Linked DNA regions of Homo sapiens. The protein of the gene in region 3 interacts with the protein of the main gene of each other region in a pairwise test. Each region holds a gene or a part of one and is shown on either strand. Other genes may lie near its edges.

Evidence for each region.
Region 1: the proteins of CRACR2A (region 3) and GPR75-ASB3 interact in binary tests that used the Homo sapiens proteins (3 or more experiments, as listed by UniProt).
Region 2: the proteins of CRACR2A (region 3) and CCHCR1 interact in binary tests that used the Homo sapiens proteins (3 or more experiments, as listed by UniProt).

Annotation. Positions count from the first base shown.
Region 1 is NC_000002.12:53,849,253-53,857,123, forward strand, and holds part of GPR75-ASB3 (GPR75-ASB3 protein), read right to left. Parts: intron 5,614-7,871; exon of another isoform or gene 5,505-5,613; coding exon of another isoform or gene 3,882-5,504; exon of another isoform or gene 3,660-3,881; intron 1-3,659. Other genes in the region: GPR75 (probable G-protein coupled receptor 75), read right to left, coding at 3,882-5,504. UniProt on the Homo sapiens protein: Probable substrate-recognition component of a SCF-like ECS (Elongin-Cullin-SOCS-box protein) E3 ubiquitin-protein ligase complex which mediates the ubiquitination and subsequent proteasomal degradation of target proteins. Recognizes TNFRSF1B.
Region 2 is NC_000006.12:31,147,088-31,154,958, forward strand, and holds part of CCHCR1 (coiled-coil alpha-helical rod protein 1), read right to left. Parts: intron 7,713-7,871; coding exon 7,409-7,712; intron 4,036-7,408; coding exon 3,872-4,035; intron 3,774-3,871; coding exon 3,638-3,773; intron 3,479-3,637; coding exon 3,368-3,478; intron 3,129-3,367; coding exon 2,979-3,128; intron 1,642-2,978; coding exon 1,531-1,641; intron 1,425-1,530; coding exon 1,318-1,424; intron 1-1,317. UniProt on the Homo sapiens protein: May be a regulator of keratinocyte proliferation or differentiation.
Region 3 is NC_000012.12:3,672,890-3,680,760, forward strand, and holds part of CRACR2A (EF-hand calcium-binding domain-containing protein 4B), read right to left. Parts: intron 7,461-7,871; coding exon 7,349-7,460; intron 6,210-7,348; coding exon 6,026-6,209; intron 704-6,025; coding exon 557-703; intron 1-556.

The DNA.
Region 1 (7,871 bases), on a different chromosome or scaffold from region 3:
CGGGGGCTATGAATCGAGCCCACTATGTATTTCATGCAATTTATAACAATAATTTTTTTAACTTTTCTTTTGGAGATTATTTTTTGATGAGCATAAAGAGACAATACCTCATATGCACCTGCTTAGTTTTCTTTGTGCTGTAATTTTTACCTCCCAATGATGGGCCTCATGCCAGTCAAATCATCTCAAACTCAAACGTCACACAGAAAACCTGCCATTTTAAATTTTATAAATAGAAATTACTTTTGTGTTAATATTTTATTGTATCACATTTGAAATGCCTAGCCAATTTTTGTATTTTTAATAGAGACAAGGTTTTTTGCATAGCCAAAAAAATAGATATATGCCTTTAAAAATGTGATGCTTGATTAATGTTGTCTTCATTATAAAGCTGTTTGGCACACTGGGGTAAATACCAGGTTTTGAATTAAGACAAAAATCTAATTCCTAATTTGCCACAATTCTTTGTACGATCTTGGGAAAGAATATTAGATTTCTTAATTCTTTGTTAAAAAGAGATAATAGGCCAGTGCACTGGCTCACGCCTGTAATCCCAGTACTTAGGTAGGCCGAGGTGGGTGGATCACAAGGTCAGAAGTTTGAGACCAGCCTGGCTAACTTGGTGAAACCTTGTCTCTATTAAAAATACAAAAATTAGCTGGGAGTGGTGGTGCGTGCCTGTAGTCCCAGCTACTCGGGAGGCTGACACAGGAGAATCGCTTGAACCTGGGAGGCGGAGGTTGCAGTGAGCCGAGATTGTGCCACCGCACTCCATCCTGGGCAACAAGCATGAGACTCCATCTTAAAAAAAAGAAAAGGGAAAAAGGGAAGGAGGGAGGGAGAAAGGGAAAGAAGGAGGGAGTAGGTAGGCAAATCAGTCTAAAAGGTGAACTTAAAAACAAAATAATTCGAGGCTGCCCCTGGGTGTGGCAAGAAAAAAATTTAGAAGAAAAAGAAAACAAAAGAAAATCTATGCCTATTTAAATCTCAAAAATAGAAATAACTGATCAATACTGAAAGGTAACAGTTATAAGATAAGGTTGAGCAGAGTTCTAATTGAATATCTATTCTGTCTTCTCTATACCTCTCATGACCCCTGTATTTGGGGAGAGCTGAGGGAGGAAACTATAAATTAAATGCCTTTCAGCTGGATGTGGTTTCTCATGCCTGTAATCCTAGCACTTTGGGAGGCCGAGGTGGGTGGATTACTTGAGGCCAGGAATTCAAGACCAGCCTGGCTATCATGGTGAAACCCTGTCTCTACCAAAAATACAAAAATTAGCCAGGAGTGGTGGCGGGCACCTGTAATCCCAGCTACTCTGGAGGCTGAGGCAAGACAATCGCTTGAACCCGGGAAGCGGAGGTTGCAGCGATCTGAGATCATGCCACTGCACTTTAGCCTGGGTGACAGAGTAAGACTCTGTTTCTACAAAAAAAAAAAAAGACTTTTACGCAAAGGAACAAAGTACCTTCCAATCTGCAATAATAACTCTTGAATATAACAATTTATAAAGATAGGTGTTGTATATTGATGCTCATCTTGTGTGTCTAACATTTAAAAACCTAGTGAGTTCAAATACTAACTGTATACTGAAAATATTTTTACAATAAAATATGAGTTCACAGTTGTTATGCTAGGAATCTCAGAGCATATAGTAAAATTAGTTTCAGGTATAGAAATACTTAAATCTATTTTTTCTTTCTGCCCATTTCCACTTTAAGATTAATGGGAGAGAAATAAAATGATTAGTTTGAAAATAGATTATCTTGAGAATTTTTCTACCATAATAATAAATAAAGACAAAAAAGAAGTCATTTCTAAATAGTTACTTGAATACTGTCAGGTGGTTAGTAAACTCTTCTCACACAGAAGGAAAACATAAATCAAAACATTCCCAGTCTTATCTGTAAACCTTGTTAAGCAATAATAAATATTGCCCAATGCATGACAGGAGTCCACACTGTTTTCCACAGAACACCGAGATGATTACCGCAGTGCCTTCTCTCCTGGGAACAGTGCACCTCTACCATAGATGCAGTCCTCTTCACTAGGCTTCTTGAATAAGATCATTCAGAAACAATTCACTTTTGGGCCAGTTGGGGTGGCTCATGCCTGTAATCCCAGCACTTCGGGAGGCCGAGGCAGGCAGATCACCTGAGGTCAGGAGTTCAAGACAAGTTCAAGACCTGTCTCTACTAAAAAATACAAAAATGAGCTGGGCATGGTGGCACACGCCTGTAATCCCAGCTACTCAGGAGGCTGAGGCAGGAGAATCACTTGAGCCCGGGAGGCGCAGGTTGCAGTGAGCAGAGATCATGCCACTGCACTCCAGCCTGGGCAACAGAGCAAGACTCCCTCTCAGGAAAAAAATAAATAAATAAATAATTCACTTTTAACAAGCAAAAATATATTTCTTTTCTTTCTTTCTTTCTCTTTTTTTCATTTTTTTGAGATGACATCTCGCTCTTGTCACCCAGGCTGGAGTGCAATGGCACGATCTCAGCTCACTGCAACCTGTCTCCCAGGTTCAAGCGATTCTCTTGCCTCAACCTCCCGAGTAGCTGGGATTACAGGTGCTTGCCACCATGCCTTGCTAATTTTTGTGTTTTTAGTAGAGACGGGGTTTCATCATGTTGGCCAGGCTGGTCTCGAACTCCTGACCCTCAGGTGATCCACCCGCCTCAGCCTCCCAAAGTGCTGGGATTACAGGTGTGAGCCACCATGCCCGGCCCAAATATATTTCTTTTCAAAAGAATTGTAAACCTACTCAACTGACATAAAACATGTCTATAATAAGAAATGGCAATAATCATAATACTATATTCTTAGTTGACTGTCCTATGAAAGAAAAGTACCTAATACCTGTGTGAGTGTTTTTGGTAAAGACAGAGTTATCACCTTTTCTGCCTTAAGAATATATATATTTCTGGCTAAGCACAGTGGCTCATGCCTGTAATCCCAGCACTTTGGGAGGCCGAGGCAGGCGGATCACCTAAGGTCAGGAGTTGAAGACCAGCCTGACCAACACAGAGAAACCCTGTCTCTAATAAAAATACAAAAATTAGCCGGGCATGGTGGCATGCGCCTGTAATCCCAGCTACTTGGGAGGCTGAGACAGGAGAATCACTTGAACCCGGGAGGTGGAGGTTGCGGTGAGCCGAGGTCATGCCATTGCACTCCAGCCTGGGCAACAAGAGTGAAACTCCGTCTCAAAAAAAAAAAAAAAAAAAAAAAAAAAAAAAGAATATATACATTTCCTTTAGAGACAGGGTCTTGCTGTGTTGCCCAGGCTGGACTCATAATCCCGGGCTCAAGTGATCCTCCTGCCTCAGCCTCCCAAGTAGCTAGGACTACAGGTGCATGCCACTGCACCCAGCTAACAATATATTATTTATTCAAATCAACCTGCTACCAACAAGGTGTAGTGTTCCCGATTTCAACACTTCAAAAAATCAAAATTTACAATTCAATTAATAAAAATAACACCTCAGCAAAAATCATATTTTCACATTCTTTAAAAAAAATCCAGTCAATACCTTATTTTGAAGTCACATAACACTGACTCAAATCATGATAATCGGTTGACTTTCTACTTTAACACAGTAGCTTCATTCCTGGCATCTATTTAAAGGCTCGGTACAAAAGACTGAGGCAAAGAGCAGGGTAAAAAATCTAAAACTTTCACATCAAATCTTAAGATGTCAACAAACTACAAAGCAAATCAACAGATACTGACACATCAGATGAAAGAAAACCATAACTGCCAACTTTTCAGTTGAATCTTGTAGGTTTTGATCCGCCACTGATCTCAAGTTAGAATAAAGTCCATTACTATCAGAAACAAAAACTGTTTACATAAGATCCTATAGCCTCCATGACTTTAAACGGAGGGGACTGGAATCTGCTTGGCTGAAGTGCTGTCATATTCCTGCACTAAGTCATTAGTGGTGTGATAATGCATGGCAATATATGAATTGGCAAATCCAAAAGAGTTTACTGGCTGTAAGTTACATGGGCTGCTCTCCTCCTGGGAAGGGCTGCTGTTATAGATGCTGTAGTAAGGTTCAATCCGAGTGTTGATGGGGGTCGAGCTGCTCTGACCACAGTGTTGATGTCCAGCAGAGATCTTGGGACTCACCATACTTTCTTTTGAATGACTTGGGCCACAAGCCTGGTCCACAAATTTCTTCTGTGGCTTTGGAGATAACATGTAGGCAGAGTTTGTTTCATGATGGGAGGATTTGTTTCTGTTGACTTCGAGGTTCCCTTTTCCCATGGCTCGAAGTCGAGTCTTTTGTTTGCAGCAGAAAAAACCCAGGCCTATGTATTGGAGGCACCAGAGCACTTTCCTTCTCAGCCCTGCACTGTTCCGAGAATATATAAAAGGGTTTAATCCTGACTTGAAAAATATAAGAGTAAATCCAAACAATTCAAACTGGTAAAGAATGAAGCTCCCATTGCTGGAGAGAACCACCTGTACCAAGGAAATCCCCAGTGGAAGACAGCACACCAGGACTGACAGCACAATGATCACACAGGTGACCACGGCTTTGGAATCCTTGGCAGTGGAGAGGTTGATGGCTGATACGAGCTGGAGTCGGCTTGCTGCAGGGGTGACCAGTTGGTTGGGACTCTTGGTATATCCACGGGTCTGAACGTGCTGCAGTTTGTTGTAATTCTGGTTCCTATACAGAGCCGGCATGGCACACTGGATGGGATCTCCACCTCCCTGCACAGGGACCCCCATGAAAGGCTGTGGTCTGGAAGCATCGACTGTGATTACAGGGGGGCACTTTCTGACTTGAGCGTTCTTCCGCAGGGTCTGAGCAATCATGATGTAAGAGACAGAGACCACAGCAACACAGAAGGTGAAGTCGACCACATAGAGAGACAAAATGGCTTTCCCTTTTCCAGCAATCAGACTGGACATGGGAAGACAGAGGTGGGACTTGCTGGTTTTCAAGGTAGCCAAGGTGGCAAGGGTGAAACTGGTGGCCCAGAGAAGCAGGGTGAGGAGTACGGTGCAGGGAAAGGAGGCCGTGCGATTAGGCTGTTTCCCCAACACCATCCGGAGCCGGTGCAGGGCGATCACTGCCACTGTCTTCAGAGACATGATGATGAAGCCTGAACTGGTGAGATGGAAAGTGAAGCAGAAAGCATCCGGGATACTACTGGCTGAGCTGAAGAATAACACAAAGGTGAACATGGGGGCTGTCACTCCACAAATGAAGAGGTCACAGAAGGACAGGTTCAGGATCATGAAATCAAAGTTGGTTCTGAATTTCCTGAAGGCTGGATCGAAGAAGGACAAGAAGACAATGAAGTTGCCATAGGAACCCAGGCAGAAGATGACCGCCAGTAGAAAAGTACAGGTCACCAAGGTGGCTGTGTGGATGAGATCCTGAAGACCCTCCTGGAGAGAGGTGCTGTTTCCTTCCTGTGAGTGAGGCACATGGAGCGAGGTGGCATTGGGGGCATCCTGAAGGTGGCCTGTTGAGTTCATTTTCGGAGAGAAATGTCTCCTTCTTCTGCTCCCCAAAAATACTCAGTGAGTCAGGGCCTCAGCTCACAGATGAGCAATATGTGACAAAAGAGGCCCAAGACAGATAAGCCTACACACAAAAATGCACACCCAGAAACAGAAAGGGATTAATGTAGAAACAGAAAGGAATTCATACAGTGATCTCATTATTAGTAGTAGTATTAGTACTAGTATCTCTCACCTTGAGAGAAAAATTTATTCATTTATTAGCAATGGGGTCTTACCATGTTGCCCAGGCTGGACTTGAACTCCTGTGCTCAAGCAGTCCTCCTGGCTTAGCTTCCCAAGTAGCTGGGACTACAGGCATGCACCACCAAACCCAGCTCTCTCTCTCTCTTTTTTTTTTTTAACAAAACACTAGAATTTTTCAGCTCTGATTTGGTGCATAGACAGCATTTCTCCTCACAAAGGCCAACACAGAAAAAGATACAAATACATTCATCCAGCTAATATTTAGTTTTATGACACAGAGGTTTTCAAACAAGTTTAAGTGTCACCTGAAGAGCATGTTAAAAAGTTTAAGTTATCACTTGGAGAGCAGATTTCTTGGCCTCGCCCCTTGTGATTCTGTTTGAGGGGTGTGCAGATGTTACTTTTAGAAACACTTCTGTGTCAGGCACTGAAGATACACAAGAACGTAATCTCTCCACCAAAGAGATGACAATCTAGTTGGAGATCAATCTAACTATGTAATAATTACAGCCTAATAAGGTTGCAGGGTGCTATGAGAGCATGGAAGGGGGGAACCTACTCCAACATGGAAAGGGAGCTGGGAAAGGATAAAGGGAGCTTTAGCAAGCACAGGCCAGCTGGATGAAAGGTCGGGGGTATGGAGTGGGGACAGACAGGCTAAGAGAAGTGGGGGTAGGTCTTTGCAGCAGAAGCACTGCGGCAAAAAACTGCATGTGCTTGAAATATAGGCTGGAGGGTATTGTTGATGCATAATGTGGCCCTTCACATAATTCCCATAAATCATTAACAAACCCTGTTTCGTTCCCTATGAAGAATCCTTTATTTCCCAGTATTTATAATTTTTCCCCCAGCTTGCAATTTCTTGGCCAATTAACTACATATTCTCCTTTGGAAAAAAACCTTGTGTAGGACTACATGTGAGACGGAAAACTGGAAGTAACCAAGGATGTTGGAATTATATTAGAAATTTACAAGGTGCAAAGCACCACATTGTAAAGTCTAAACTGCTATATAAATGTGAGTTACCATTATCCCAACAAGAATATCCTGATGGTGAAGCAGGAGGCATGCACCCATTCCTGCATTCGTTCGCTCAATTTATATTAATTATGTGCATACCATATGCCAGCATTACGCCAGGTGCTAGGTGCTACGATGAGTAAGGCAGTCTCTACTTTAAAAGAATAACTTCTTGCTCCTTTTTCCTAACTTTTTTTTTTCTATTTTGCAATGAGACTTAATGTGCACTCACACAAATCTACATTGTCCCAAATCCCAAAGTCCTGCAAGGGTTGGTGCCCAACCTGCTCCCAACAGATGCTTCTGGTGGGACCGACTAAGCTGTTCCTTGGAGACAGCACTATGTTCTTGACAACCAAAAAGGGTTTGCCTTAATCTAGAATTTTAGGAACAATAAGTGGCACTGCAGAGGTCCAGGGCTGATGTTCAGTGTACTTAACCACCAGCTCAAGCTGGATCCCAGAAGCCTCCAGCTGTTAACCCTTTAGTTGCCAGATCAAGGGGGTACAGCGGAATGAACCAGGTCAGTCAGGGATTACCTGGGGCTCCAATTAGCAGCTATGGACTACCCAATACAGAAGTCTCTCCACATTTAACAACAGATACAGCCATGCCAGTGACTATCAGACATATACCAGTCCTGGGAAATCCATATAATTGACTGGTGTCCTTAATCAAGGAAAAAGATAACTTAATCTATATTCTTAACATTCATATGGTACAGATCAGGACGATATGGTGAATTTGTCCACTGGAAAGTGAGACCAACTTTTCTATACTTTCCTTTCAAATAAAAGTTCCATAAGAGAAGAAAATCCTGAACTTTTGTTTCTTGATGGTTAGAATTTTTTAAAAATAGTACCAGATAGCTCTATTTCCACTTAAAGGCTGTATATTTGTTTCTGAACACTTTTGATACCTATATAATGAGAAAGACAATTTTTTTTTTTTTTTTTTTTTTTTTTTTGAGACGGAGTCTCGCTCTGTCGCCCAGGCGGGACTGCGGACTGCAGTGGCGCAATCTCGGCTCACTGCAAGCTCCGCTTCCCGGGTTCACGCCATTCTCCTGCCTCAGCCTCCCGAGTAGCTGGGACTACAGGCGCCCGCCACCGTGCC
Region 2 (7,871 bases), on a different chromosome or scaffold from region 3:
AAGCCAGAGACTGTGCTAAGAACTACCTGCCGGCCAGGCACGGTGGCTCAAGCCTGTAATCCCAGCACTTTGGGAGGCCGAGGCGGGCGGATCACGAGGTCAGAAGTTTGAGACCAGCCTGGCCAACACAGTGAAACCCTGTCTCTACTAAAAATACAAAAAAGTAGCCGGGTGTGGTGGTGTGCACCTGTAATCCCAGCTACTCAGGAGGCTGAGGCAGGAAAATCGTGTGAACCCGGGAGGCAGAGGTTGCAGTGAGCTGAGATCGTGCCATTGCACTCCAGCCTGGGTGACAGTGCGAGACTCTGTCTCAAAAAAAAAAAAAAAAAAAAAAAGAACTACCTGCCTTGGGTACCTCAGTGTCTAAGGCTGAGGGGAAGTCATCACCAGCACAAAGAAGCTTTGCTGTTTTCTTAGAGGTTTTTCTGAAGGTCATACAACAATTGTAGGTAATGAAACAACTAGGAAGTTGGTAGGAGAGACAAAGGCTGGCAATTGATTTAGAAGGAAACTAACTGGCTTACATTTTAGATGGAATAGTAAGCAAGTTAAGTATATAATAAGCAAGTAAGTATATAGCTTTAAATAAATAGACTAGGCCAGGTGCAGTGGCTCACACCTATAATTCCAGCACTTTGGGAGGCTGAGGTGGGTGGATCACCTGAGGTCAGGAGTTCAAGACCAGCCTGGCCAACATGGTGAAACCCCGTCCCTACTAAAAATGCAAAAATTAGCCGGGTGTAGTGGAGGACACTGGTGGAGGATGCCTGTAATCCAGCTACTCGGGAGGCTGAGGCAGGAGAATCACTTGAACCAGGGAGGTGAGGTTGCAGTGAGCCAAGATTGCGCCATTGCACTCCAGCCTGGGTGACAGAGCGAGACTTTGTCTCAAAATAAATAAATAAATAGACTAAATTTTTCTCCAGTGAAACGGATTGCCCGTAAAATTTTAGAAAAAAAAAGGAAGATGAAGTGTCTACACTCTCCATCCTTGAACAATACTGCAAGTAAAGATCCTCCCGGGTGCTCTATTTAGCTCAAGCCATTACTAGACTGAACTGCAGGAGGAAGCAAGGCCTCACCTCCAGCCAAACATGCAACGGGAAATTCATAACAAGCAATCAGGTATGAATGCAGAAGGGGCTTCCCCAGGAAAAGAAACGAACACAGGAACATTGATAGAGCTAAATCTGCCCAGCCCTGTAGCCTCCAGTGGCCACTTTCCAGCCCCTCTTGCCTGAGGATCCTCAGCAACAAGGTGCCCAGGAACCTGAGGTGGCAGAAACACTACTCCACCCACCCCTCCATCCCTGATACCTGCTGACAGCATTGACCACAAGCCTCAGCTGCTCCTCGGCTGAGGCTGTCTGCTGCTGCCACCGACGCCTGGCCTCCTGAGCACGGCTCAGCTCCAACTGCAGGCCCTGGGGAGGATGCAGCAAAGGACAGGGTCCCTCCCTAAGTCCTGGCTGCAGCCCCGGAACAGGGGCTCCCTTGCCCTCCCCGAGTCTCTAGTAGGCTGACACCAACCTTGGCACCCATACGCTCCACCTCCACCTCTGCGGCTTTGTCCTGCAGGGATCGCTGCAGGATGGCCTGCTCCTGGCTCTGGGATGTCACTTTTTCCTGGAGTGAGGCCACCTGGGGGAGGAGAGAGAGCTAGGCAGGGCCCTCTAGAGCTAAAAGATGAGGGGGGCACTGGAAGCAAAGTGGCAGGTGCAGAGATCTCTGTAAGAATGCCATGCAGGGGCTGGGGGGAGGGGGGGCGGGCGACGGGGGTGGGTTGCAGCACGGTGGCTCACACCTGTAATCCCAGCACTTTGGGAGGCCGAGGCAGATGGATCACTTGAGGTCAGGGGTTCAAGATCAGCCTGACCAACATGGTGAAAGCCTGTCTCTACTAAAAATACAAAAATTAGCTGAGCGTGATGGCATGTGCCTGTAATCCCAGCTACTCGGGAGGCTGAGGCAGGAGAATCACTTGAACCTGGGAGGCGGAGGTTGCAGTGAGCTGAGATCAGGCCACTGCACTCCAGCCTGGTGACAAGAACAAGACTCCTTCTCAAAAAAAAAAAAAAAAAAAAAAGAAAAGAAAAAGAATGAATGCCACGCAGGGAGACAGAAGCTTAGGTTCTGAGGATGGAATCTGAGCCCAGTGTTCCATGTTCCACATTCCATGTGCCCACTCAAAGATGGGAATAGCCCTTGACCCACCCCACAAGACCCACCAACTGACCATGCCACTCTCCTCAGATGCTGTCACCTCCTCAGAGAGGCTGTCTCTGAGCATCCTACCTGAGGCTGACTCACCCCACAGTCTCTCCGTCACATTATCTTTTGAATTTTTCTTACTACTTTCTTTTTTTTTGAGAAAAGATCTCGCTTTGTCACCCAGGCTAGAGTGCAGTGATGGGATCACAGTTCACTGTGGCCTCGCCTCGACCTCCCAGCCTCAGGTGATCCTCCCACCTCATCCTCCAGAGTAGCTGGGACTACAGGAATGAGCCACTATGACCGGCTAATTTTTTGTATTTTTAGTAGAGACGGGATTTCACATGTTGCCCAGGCTGGTCTCGAACTCCTGACCTCCAGTGATCCACCTGCCTCGGTCTCCCAAACTGTTGGCATTACTTGACTGGGCACGGTGGCTCACACCTGTAATCCCATCACTTTGGGAGGCTGAGGCAGGTGAATCACCTGAGGTCAGGAGTTCAAGACCAAAGTGATCGCATTATAGGTGTGAGCCACTGCACCTGGCTTCAATCTTTCTATCGCACATATAATTACCCAACATTATCTGTTTACTTGCGTGTTCTGTGTCTCTGTTCTAGAATGCAAGCTCCACATTTTAGTTTTGTTCAGGGCTGTGTGCCCAGCATGTGGCAACCACTCAATAAACACTGGTTGAATGGATGCCACCTTCATGGAAGGAGCAAGGTGCTGGGAGGGAATACCGGGAGAAAAGAGAGTGCAGTGACCTGTCCCTTCAGCTGCTTAACAGAGTCACTGTGTTCCAGCTCCTGGGCCTTTAGCTGCACCATGAGGGCAAACACCTTCTCCCGCCAGCGGTTCAGCAGGGACTGGCACTTCCTGGTAAACTCAGGCTCCAGGGAATCTGAAGGTTGAACCTGAGGGAGAAGGAGTGGGAGAAAAGTGTGGGCTCCTGGGGGAGGAGAGGAAGGAGGTGGCATCTTTGTTTCTCCTCTGTCCTGCCTGGGCAACATGAGCTACAGCAAGAGGAGTTCACAGGAAGGAGATCTAAGCAGGTTCTGGGGCACATTGACCCCTCCTGCCCACAGGGAGGGAGGCAGGGGACAGTAGATGCAGGATGCGGCTGAGGGTGAGGGGTCTGGGGGTTGGGCTGTACCTTCCTGGTCAGCTCCTCCTCCTGCAGGGCGAGGATGTGTGTGAGGCTCTGCACCCGCACCTGCAGCAGCTCCGCGGTGGCATGCAGGCTGTCCCGGTCCTCCTGCAAGTGCTGCGGGCAGAGGAAAGCAGCCCCTCTGTAGGGCCTCCATGCCGCCTTAGGTACCACCTTCTCTCCCGGAGGCTGTGCTCTACACGCTCCTCCAAGGGCCACGCTTGCCTCCCAACCTGATCCCTAAGTCTGCACACAGATACATTCCTGCACCCTCACCTGCATGGTTTCCAGAAGCTTCTGTCGCTCCAGTTCCCATGTCTGGCTGTGGACCTCAGAAGGCACTTGTTCCCCAACATATTTTCTTAGATTCTCAACCAGGGTCACCTGAGCCTCCAAGTCTTCCTGGGTCTTGCTAGGGTTGGGGTGGGAATGGGACAGCCATCAGTGGGGCGCCCTGCAGATCCACCACATCACTAATTGCTGGGCTCCCGTCGGCGTCCGCCCACCTACCTCAGCTGCTTCCGAAGCAGCTCGGCCTCCCTCTGAGCCTCGGCCAGCTCCTTGGCTTCCCCTGCTCTTCTGGTTTCCAGACTACTCAGAGACTTCTCCAAGCCCTCAGCCTTGCTGGTCAAACTGGAAAGAGCCTCCTCGTGAGCCTGTGTCAAAGAGGACAGCTGCGGAAAGAAGAGGGGGCTCAGCAGAGGCTCGACCCCACATGGAGGCCTTCCTTGTTCCCTTCACTCCCACTTTCTGTGACCTTAGAGAATGACCCAACCAATCAGCCAACTGTGCACAGCAAATGGAGAGCTGGCAACTCACTCTCCGCAGCTGCCCCACAACCCATCAGGAGTTCTTGTCCGATCTCCCCCAAAACATATCTTCACCTCTCTGTCTCCGTCTCCACTGCCACCAACCCTCATCTTTTGCCTGGGCAACAGCGACCATCTCCTAACTAGTCTTTACAAACCCTCAGTGGCTTCTCACAGCATTCACAACAAAACCCAGGTGTCTCTCCACACCTGCAGGCCAGGGGACCCGGCCTCTGCCTACCTCCTGAGCTCACCCTGGAGGCTCTCCCACTGCTCCCCGCTCCGGCCACGGGGAGTCTGCTGAGAACCAGACAGCGGCCCCTCCTTGCTCCACAGACCCCAGGCGATAGCCCCTCCTCAGGGTGGCTTCACTGGGCCCTCTAATACCGTCCCTCCCCACCCTACTCTGCCCCATCAGCTGTTCACGTCCTCCTGAGCACTTAGCACTGACCATATCTTGCTTATGTGTATGTGTTACTATCTGTCGGACCACACTGGAAGGAAAGCTCCAGGAAAGGAGGAATTTTGTGTCTTTTGCTCATGGCACCTCAAAGGGTTGCAGGGGTGTCAGAGCCACCAAGAGTCATGGGATGGACTGGAAAGGAGGGCAAAGTGCCCACCCTGCTTCCTGGTCTGCCTCCTCTAGCCCTGTCTCCATACAACAATAAAATTAATTTGGGGGACATAAATGACAAAATTTTTTAGACATAAAATACAAATCTAATCATGTTATTTCCCTGCTTAAAACCTTTCAACAGGCCGGGCGCAGTGGCTCATTCCTGTAATTCCAGCACTTTGGGAGGCCGAGGTGGGTGGATCACAAGGTCAGGAGATCGAGATCATCCTGGCTAACATGGTGAAACCCCGTCTCTATTAAAATACAAAAAATTAGCTGGGCGTGGTGGCGGGCGCCTGTAGTCCCAGCTACTCGGAAGAATGACTTGAACCCGGGAGGCGGAGCTGGCAGTGAGCCAAGATCGCGCCACTGCACTCCAGCCTGGGCGACAGAGCGAGACTCCATCTCAAAAAAAAAAAAAAAACAACCTTTCAACGGTTGCTTATTACTTGAAAAAACAATTTTTTTTTGTTTGTTTTTTTGGAGATGGAGTTTCACTTTGTTGCCTAGACTGGAGTGCAATGGCACGATCTCAGCTCACTGCAAACGCTGCCTCCCAGGTTCAAGCGATTCTCCTGCCTCACCCTCCTGAGTAGCTGAGATTACAGGCATGAGCCACCACGCCCAGCTAATTTTTGTATTTTTAGTAGAGATGAGGTTTTACCATGTTGGCCAGGCTGGTCTCGAACTCCTGACCTCAAGTGATCCACCCGCCTCAGCTTCCCAAAGTGCTAGGATTACACATGTGAGCAACCATGCCCAGCCCTAATTTCTTCCATAAAATAGAGATGGGGGTCTCGCTTTGTTGCCCAGGCTGGTCTCAAACTCCTGGGCTCAAATGATCCTTCCACCTTGGCCTCCCAAAGTGCTAGGATTACAGGTATGAGCCACTGTGCCCAGCCTGCTCATTGCTCTTATGGGAAAGTAGCAAGTTCTGAAGTGGCCAAAGCCTTGTGCCCTGGGCCCTGGGCTCTGCAGCACACTCAGTGCCCCTCATCTCTGTGCCCCAGCCTTCTGGCCTCCTGTCCCCGCCTTCACCTGTTGTCCCACCAAGTGTCTTCCAGCTACCACTGGACTTCACACGCCTCTTCACTGGCCAACTCCTATTCAGCACAAACGGTAGCTTGTTGTTTTTTTAGTCTCGCTCTGCTGCCCAGGCTGGAGTGTGATGTCAGCTCACTGTAACCTCTGTCTCCCAGGTTCAAGCAATTCTCCTGCCTCAGCCTCCCAAGAAGCTGGGGGATTACAGGCGCCCACGACTATACCCGGCTAATTTTTGTATTTTTTTGTAGAGTTCTTCATGTTGGCCAGGTTGGTCTTTAACTCCTGGCCTCAAGTGATCCGCCCACCTCGGCCTCCCAAAGTGCTGGGATTACAGGCATGAGCCACTGTGCCTGGCCTAGCTTCTTGTTTCTAAGTTTCTTTCATAAATCTCCTTTGTCCATTTTCTGATTGGATTGCTGGTCTTTCCCTTACCAATTTCTAGGCACACATTTTATATTAGGGATATTACCCTTTTCTTGTGATCTGAGCTATAAATATAGCTTTTTTTTTTCTTTTTGGCTATTCCTAATGTTCATGTTATAAAGTCAATGGATCAATTTTTTCCTTTATGGCTTCTAGATTTTGGATTTTGACTCACAGGTAGAAAGGCCTTGCCCACTACAAGGTTATAAAGGAATTCTCCCTTGTTTTCTCCCAGTTCCTTTTTTATTTTATTTTTTGAGACAGAGTCTTGCTCTGTCGCCCAGGCTGGAGTGCAATGGCACAGTCTCGGCTCACTGCAACCTCCACTGCCCAGGTTCAAGTGATTCTCCTGCCTCGGCCTCCCAAGTAGCTGGGATTACAGGTGCGCACCACCACGCCTGGTGAATTTTTGTATTTTTAGTAGAGACAGGGTTTCGCCATGTTGGCCAGGCTGGTCTTGAACTCCTGACCTTGTGATCTGCCTGCTTCGGCCTCCCAAAATGCTGGGATTACAGGCGTGAGCCACTGCGCCCAGGGCTATGGTTTCTTTCCTTGACATGTCAACTGGTTACAGTGGCCTTCCCTGAACCCCAGACTAAGTTAGTGCTTTCTAGTCCTTCTCCTTCAAGGCATTCCTCCTGATTGCAATTAATTATGATTAAATTAAATGTGGATGTGTATATCCCCCACGAGGCTGTCAGTTCCATCCACGAAGGCAGGACTCAGGCTAATTTGGTCACTGAGTCTTAGAGATGGCAAAGAGTAAGTACTGAGTTTGAGGACTGAATAATCTCTCTCTCCCAGTCCACCATAGCCCCCTTATACCCACCTTCCTCACTGCCCTCCACAATACCCCTGATGAATTGGTACCTGGAGTAAAGTAGGGAGGCAAACTATTTCCTACTAGAAAGGGAAGCAGGGCTTCAAGTGGTGGGAGGCCACCTGAGTCTTGGGGGAAAAGTGCAACCTGAATTAAGATAAAAGTACCCAAATTCTCCATCTTTCTAGGCCATGTGTGTTTATTTTCACCAAAGGTCTCATCACTCTACTACTCACTACTCATGGAGGGTCTTTTCTGCAATACCTGTTCTTTGCTTGGAAGCTACTGCCCAGCTCTCCGTTATGAATTTGAATCCTTTCTACCCCTGCATTCACCTGCTCTTGGTGCAGCCTCTGAACCTCTTCCAGCTCCCGCTGGCTCCCCTCTTCCAAGTTCTTCCGGACAACCTCAGCCCCAGCCAAAGCAGCACGCAGGCCCTCAGCCTCAGCTCGGCCGGCCTTCTCCGCCCGTGCCAGAGCCTCTAGCTCCATGGCCTGGGCCTCTAGCCTCATCTTCTGCTGCAGCGAGGTCTCCCGCAGGAGCCGGACCTCCTCCTCCAGCCGCCGCAGCTCTTGCAGCTGCCGAACGATCACCTCAGCCTGCTGGCTCAGGGCCTGTGACCCCTCCAGCCCCCAGGACCTTCAAAGACAGGTTAGTGCAGGTGAGACTTGTCTCCAGTGCTGGAAGGATAGTTGAGGGCATAAACATAGCCAGGAGAAGGAAAAGAGGACCCCTCTGCTTCCGTGTGGGGAGGTGAAGGGGGTGCTGAAGCTGGGGTATGGGGATGTCTGCATTGAC
Region 3 (7,871 bases):
GGCCAGGAGGAGGGACATTCAGCAGGGCTATAGGTCACCTTACCAAACACGCCACCTCTGCAAAGTGGGCTGATCTGGCCCTGGGGGATGGCCCAGTATGCTGGGGTCTTACTGCCTGGAGGCAAGCAGAGTGATTTTTCTTCTGGTCACAGGCACCTGGCTAGCTCACTCCCAGTCCTGGCTCTACTGTTCACAAGCTATGCCTTCTGGGGTGTACTACTTAACCTTTCTGGGTTTCCAACCCTCCGCCTGCAAAATGTGCAGATAATAAATGTGCAAAATGATAACCAGTCCCTCCTTCAAAGCGTTGTGGTGAGAACTAAATAAGCTAGTGTATAAAAAGTATTTAGAATAGTGCCTACCATATAGCTTAAAAAGGTGACGGAGAGCTTAAAAATACATATATCGTGACAGACACAGGGCCTGGTCCCCACTTTGGCAGACAGCAAAAGGAGGCATTGCACGATGTTTTGGCAGAAGATCTAAGAGAAAGTGCACCGTGTGTCTCTCTTTTTCACACATAGTTACAGAAAGCGGCTGACACTGGGGTACCCACCTTTTTAGGGCACACTCCAGTTCATTCTTCTCCTCATGGGCTTCTTGGAGCTGGGAGATGATTCTGGTCAGGAAGTCTTCAAAGTTGGACAGTAAATGAGGTTCCTCCTTCTTCAGCTGCAACCAGAGCTGCTTGACATCACTTTCACTGCAAGAGAAGGGACGCTCATGTGGAAGTGTGGAGATGAGGCTTCACGGGAAATACAGAGGTTCCCAGACAGGAAACTGACAGCCAGAAACAGTACCGTCAGAATCATTATAAAGATGACAGTAGCTAACGTGGACCGAATGCTTGCTGCATGTGAGGAGCTTCAAGGATATCAGCTCATTTCGTCCTCACAATAACCCTACAAGGCAGGAGCTGCAATTACCCCATTTACAGATGACGAAGCAGGTGAAGAGAGGTGGAGTGAGCTGTCTAAGATCACCCAGCAGTCACTGATGGAGTCAGGGGTCCAGCTCAGGGCTGTCTGACTCCGGTGTTGGCCTCCTTCCCCACCTCGCTCTGCTGCTTCTGTTCTCCCGTGGCCTTCACGACGGGCTCGTGGGGCTGGGCGTGCACAGCAACATGCTCTGGTGCATCTCCAAATGCCAGGAAGAAGACAGGAGGACAGGAGCCCAGTGCGTTTAAGGACACACACTATGGAGCTAAAGCAGAGAGCTCGTTGCCCCCAGGAAGGATGGTCCTCACTGCTGAGAGGTAAAGACGTGCCATGTGATGGATGGCAGAAAGCAATTGTCACTGCAGGAAGGGAAGAGAATATGCAGCACCCCACTGTGGCCTAGTGGCACTAGGGATGACTGACAGGCAAAAAGAAGGGAAGGAGCAAGTCTGAAAGATGCGCACACACAGAAAGACAAGGCGAGAGAGACTTGGGAGACCCAGAGGCCAATAGACAAAGGCACAGAGGCACGTGTGTACACAGCTCAGTGACAGAGATACAGGGGCTCAGGCTGACACCCAGGGAGGGAATGAGGAGGAGACACACATGGTGGACCCTGTTCTCCCTTTCTGGGGAAACTAAAAAATCTGTGGCCAATGATCAAGCTAAGTTAAACATAAATCTGAAAGAGGATAGGTTTTAATTCAATAAAAGTTAATAATTTCTCACAGCTAGCAGACAGTAGAGTGTTATAGCATCAAGTTTGAAAGTTATATAATAATAAACAGTAGAGTTCAAGTGAAATTTCACAGGCTAGTTTATTATAAATTATCAATTAAACTTTATTCTAGCAAAGTAGAGAATAAATATAAATCTTATCCCGCAAACAATCAGGCTTTTGATTTTTTTAAATTAATGGGCACATATGTATTTTCCAACACTTTTTTCACATCTATATAACAAGATGTAATAACTAGCTCAGTTCATTGTCTTCTCAAAGTCTTTTGTTACTTAAATATTCACTCTGTGTCTTAATCTTTCAAGTTTCCAGCTATTGAAAATATAAGTCCTTCACCTCCTTCCATCCTTTCAACATAATTACATTTTGATTTTTTACTCTGTTAAACTTTGAGACTTTATGTAATGTATATTTCACATTTAATTAATTTAACCTGATTATGGAAAATCGCTTATGACCCTCGTTTTATGAGGATAAAGTTATCTGTATGCCTATACTTCTCTTGAGCTCTTTCCAAAATTTGCTTGTCCATTACAGTCATCTGCACCTTGACAATCTGCCACCAACAGATTCCTGTTGGCTCCCCAGGAATCCTCAGGATAAAGAATAAAATTATCTGTGCTTGTATAACAAGCATTATATTTTAGAAATTTTCTTCGGAAGTGATATTTGTTAGTGTCATGCTAGCAATGCCCCTGTGGTATAGACATTACTCTCTGCACCCTGCAGAGAAGAGGCCCACTGAGAAATGGGTGGTGACCTCCCATCCCTGTGGCAGCTTGCTCCCTGCTGTGGTGTGAATGTTTATATCTCCTACAAATTCATATGTTTAAATCCTAACCCCCAACATGATGGCATCAGTAGGTGAGGCCTTTGAGAGGTGATTAGATCATGAAGGCAGAGCCCTCACAAATGGGACTAGTGCCATTGACACTGTGTTCTATAATTAGTATTGTTTTAAAACTCTGTATGCTAACTCCCAAATATGATATTAAATAAATGTTTATACTATTATGACTACATAAATAATACCCCTGGAGAACCAGGACTCTTCCTAAAATTACGCCATTATTTGTTTTACTTCCTTTCCCTGTCCCACTTCCCCAAATCCCTTGCCAGTTTCTTCTGGGAGTACCTCACTAATAAATCACTTTAAGACAAAAACCACAAAAACAGAAACGTAAATGTGACTTGTCTTCCATTAAATTCCAGAAACAGAAGATCTGAGGATAGCTCTGACAAGGAACCCTCAGGAGAAGGAATAAAATCCTTTGTGCTTGCGTTATTAAGCATTATATTTTAGAAACCTTATTCAGAAGGGATATTCAATAGTGCCATGCTAGCAACGCTCTTGGGAAATGGACATGACTCTCTGCACCCAGCAGAGAAGAGGACCACTGAGAAATAGGCCCACCTCTGATCAGTTATCTGGTCATCTCTAACACTTCATCCCTCTCTCCCTCCTTTCCTTGCTCCATCACTTCCACCAATTCTTTCTTCTATCCCATCCAAACATCCGCGTACTTATTTAGACCATCCATCCATCCATCCATCCACCCACCCATTTCCTTATTAACTCAACAAGTATTTATTATGATCTGTTGTAAACCTTGCACTGTACTGGATGTCATGGGTGAATCTGGGAAATGGGAGAAAAGGAGGTAAGGAACCTCTCTGTTTCTCAGAATGAGTTCCATTCCTCCCAGCCCCACAACACACACACAGCATGTTGTGGGGGTCTTATTTCATCCTATAGGTAAAATTTAGATGTGGCAAAGGGTTCAGAGATAAGAGGGTCTCAGAGAGACACCATGGTGACCTCCCATCCCTGTTATAGGTTGTTCCCTGCTGTGGTGTGAATGTTTATATCTCCTACAAATTCATATGTTTAAATCCTAACCCCAACATGATGGTGCCAGAAGATGAGGACTTTGAGAGGTGATTAGATCATGAAGGCAGAGCCCTCACGAATGGCACTAGTGCCCTTATAAAAGAGGCCAGAGGAAGCTCATTCACCCTTCCTGCCATATGAGGACACAGTGAGAAGACAACTGTCTGTGAATGAGGGAATGTGACCTCATCAGAGAGCAAATCTGCTGGCACCTTGATCTTGAACTTCCTAGCTTCCAGAACTGCCAGAAATAAATTTTGGTTATTTATATAAAGTACCACATCTATGGCAGGTATTACAGCAAACCAAATGGACTGAGACACGCCACCATGAAGTAAATGCATTGTAAAATCAAGGTTCACCTTGCCAGCCCAGGTCTGTCTGTCCACACCTGCCAGGTTCCTGATGGAGCCAACTGAGCTCAAGTCCCCAGTGAGATTTGCAGACCCACCTGCTCCTCTTCCAACACTCTTTGAACTACTTAGTCATGGCAACAACAACTTGCCCCAGATTTCTGGAGAAGGGACAAGTCTTTCAACTTTTGATGAAAAACAAGCCAAAGCTCACTAAGCTGCCAAATCGCTTAGCCAATCGGACCACCAAGAAAAGTCAAAGTGCAGATGCCCAGTCTCGAACTTCTAGAACACACCAAGGCCACCCCTCCTGGGAGGATATGGGAGTATAGGCTAGAAAGGATTCTGGGAGGTTTATCAATCCATTTCACTGCTTCCAGAACAACACACAAATCATTTTGGTGAGCAAAATCTTTAAAGAGCCCTCAAATATTCATAGCCTTTTCTATTTCCCTATCTGAGGTCTCACAGCCGTGAATGTTTCCCTCATGCTGCAATCTAAGCCCACTTCAGTGAGGATGGAAGTGGCTGGTCACCATCTTCTGTGTATCATCTTTTACAGACCACTCTTGAAACCTCCACAAAACCTCCTCTTCTTCGGGACATCTCATTTTGGCTCAGTTCTGCACTGCCTTACTATAGGTCCTCAGAGTCACGTCTGGTGGACTCTAATTGAGAACCTTGCCAGTAAGGCTGCTACCCTGCAGTGAGGGCTGGGCAGAGAGGCCCCTTCCTTCCGTTACGGTGCCTCAGCTCACCTGCACTGCCTTCTCCTTCCCCCTTCTCCAGGAGGAGGTGTCACACTGTCACCAGGAATGGTCTCTGTGCTCTGGCCTGTTGTCCTTGGAGAAGCTGGGTCAGGTGTATGACTAATGAGCTTCCCACCCACCTGTGCCCCTTCCACCTGCCAGCTACACCTTCTGTGGTCGACACCTGCTGCAGCCCCTTCCAGGCCTTCAGCAAACCTGCTACTGCTGCTGGTCTTGAGTTCCACTTCCTGTGTAGCGCCCCCACCAGGATCTTCCCCAGGCACTTGCCTATCCCTTTCTTGCCTGGAACACACTTTCGCCAGCCTTTCCCAGTTCTGCCACAGTCTACCAAATTGTTTGCTGAAAAATTCACAGAGCTTCGGCCTGCAAATCGTATATAGGCCTCTTCTCTCTTGTCTCCTTTTTATCATTTTCCACCCTAGCCCCTTCTCTTCCCAAGCTCAGGAAATGTCAGCTGTAATCAGTAGGGCATTCCCACACTACAGGAAACATACATCTAACCCAAGACCTAAGGACCCCAAAACAAAAAGGCCAAAGGCAAAGGCTAAAGGGGCAGAAGGTATTACATGCTTTTCAGGCCCTCTGTTTGGTTTCTACTAGCTGTAACACCACATTTTCCTTATTTTATTTTACTTTACTTCAATGTCAGGGCTTAGATCCCTGTGTCTATTCCAAAGCACATTTTAGGAAAAAAAATGGTGGAGGGGTAGTTATGTTTTGTTTGAGATCTCAGCCATCTACAATTTTCCAAGTAGTGGCCTGCTAAAAACTGCTTCATTTCCCACCTTGGCTTCCTGCACAAGCCTGGTTTGCCGAGGATACCGTGTGCAAATGCTTCCACATGATGGGTTTTGGCCAGGAAGGCACCCACAGCTGGGGCAGCTGGGAGGCACCGTAGCTCTAGAGACCCAGGAGAGGTAAAGATGCTGGGGAGCTGATGGTGATAGGAAGCCTTAGGGAGAACTCCATGAAAAACCCTGAGAGCATGGTACAGACCTCTGATGTGTGAGTGCCTCATGAGGAGCAAGGCTGAGCCAAGGACTGGGGGATAATGCATGGCCAGGAGTGAGGAAGGTAGAGGGGGTGGGAGAGAAGGAGAATAGGAATGATTCCTAAAGAAAAAAAAATGTAAACAGCAGAGACAGAGCCCAACACACAGCCAGGTCATCACAAAGGACAGGCCCCCACTGGCAGAACCAGCGGGCCTTTACCTGCACTGCATTCCAGTGCAGGGACCAGCACCACATGGTTAACAAATGTTAATTGTTGAATGGACACAGGAAGAGGTTCCTACCAGGCTGGTCTCCGTTCTACAAATCACTGTCACCACTTACTCTTCCAACACCTTTTGGGCTCCAAGTCTGTCCATCAGCATCCGGAACTGGGCTTCCTCATCTTCGCCCATGTCGCCCAGATCCTCATCCCCTCTGGACAGATACACCTTCTCTTCATGGCGCTGGGCCACCTGTTCACCTGCATCTTCCTGACTTGGGTTATTCTGGCTGAAGAAGAAGTGACCTGGGGGGTGCAGGGCACAAGGATCCGAATTAGACCATACCCATCCAGGAAGAGCTCAGCTTTCTCACCTGCCAGGAATCATTGAAGGTTCATCTGAGAGAAGGAAAGGGAAGGGAAAGCCCCTCCAGCAAAGATCCATGGACATGGGTCCGTGGACACGTTCCAGATTCTGTGACTTTTCCACTTCCACAAACACCCCATCAGTGATGCTAGAATCTGGGAATGGCAGAATGTAAGACGGATACGGTGTCTCCTTTGTGGTTCTCAGTCCCTTAACATCTGGCTTAGAACGCATCTCCGTTGATTTCTTCTTTAAGCAACAAGGCCTTTCCCTGCACTGCATTCCAGCACCCTGACTGCAGAGGCTCCTATTGTCATCCTAGTCATCCTCCCGCTAGCATCACTAGACTTCACATCTACAAGCTCCTTAACAGTTTCCAGTGTACTTCCTCCATACTCATACTGTCCAGTGTTACAGCAGTCTGTCTTATCCTCCCAAGTCAATTAGAAGCTCCTGAAGGTCAGGAAAGGCATCAGATACTTACAAGAAAATTATATGGCCCCACACATAAGGCAGATATATGGCTTTTGATGTATCTGATAGGATAGTGTGTCTGGTTTCTTTATATTGTTCATAGATCTCGATTCTTCTTCCTCCTGGTTACCTTGAGAATGTCTAGTCTGTTCAAACCTTCTAGAAATTCCTCTGATAGCTGTTATCCCTCAACCTGGAAAATTCAGCCAGACTTGGGTTGGAATGAGCCATCCAGTTGTCCCACCTTTTGGCCATTTTTCTATGAAGGCAGAAAAGGAGAGGCTGCAAATCTCATCACAGCTCCCCCTTTTATGCTATGGCTTCTGCAGAGCTTCCGTCCATCTCCCTTGCCAGTCCCAGTGGGAGGGAGCTTGGTAATGGCAGTGCAGTGGGCACTGAGCAAGCGGCAATGTAAGCAGTTGAGACGGGCATGTGAGGAGGCCCAAGCAATCTAGAGCCTGGAGACCTTGAGCTCCAGGTCCCTGAAAGGAGGGCAGGAAAGCTTTACTACCTGCCCCCCAGGTCTACAAGGGACAGGAATGCACCTTATACAGTGTTAGGTAGACCCATAACCCTGAGGTCCCCAGCACCCATCAGAACTTACTAAATCCAGTAGTGAACTCCTGTGGGGTCAGATAGCCATTGCCATCAGCATCCAGGGCATCAAACACATCCTCCAGTTCCTCCAGGCTGAGCGGTAGCTCCTTATGCAGCCTCTGAAAACAACCCAGAGTGTACTGGTTAACACTGACACTCACTGGTGGGGGAGGTGACCTGGGACTGCAGAGCCTTCTGCCAGAAAGTGTCTAGAGTTCGGCCCAGTCCTACAAAAGCCAGTAGAAAGCTTCTGCATCCAGACTGCTTCACCATCCCTCTCCTCCTTTGCATGTTAGCACAACTACCATTGATTGGGTGCCTACGAATGTACTAGGCCATTTGCTAGGTGATTTATAAATAAACAAATATGTAAATATGCATTTATTTATCTATCTGCATTTAATTCCCATGACAACACTCTGAGCTAGGCACTATTATCTCTGTTTTACAGATGAAGTTTGAGGTGAAATTACCTGCTCCAAAGTCACATGGCTAGTAATGACATAGCCAGGAGTCAAATCCAGCTCTGA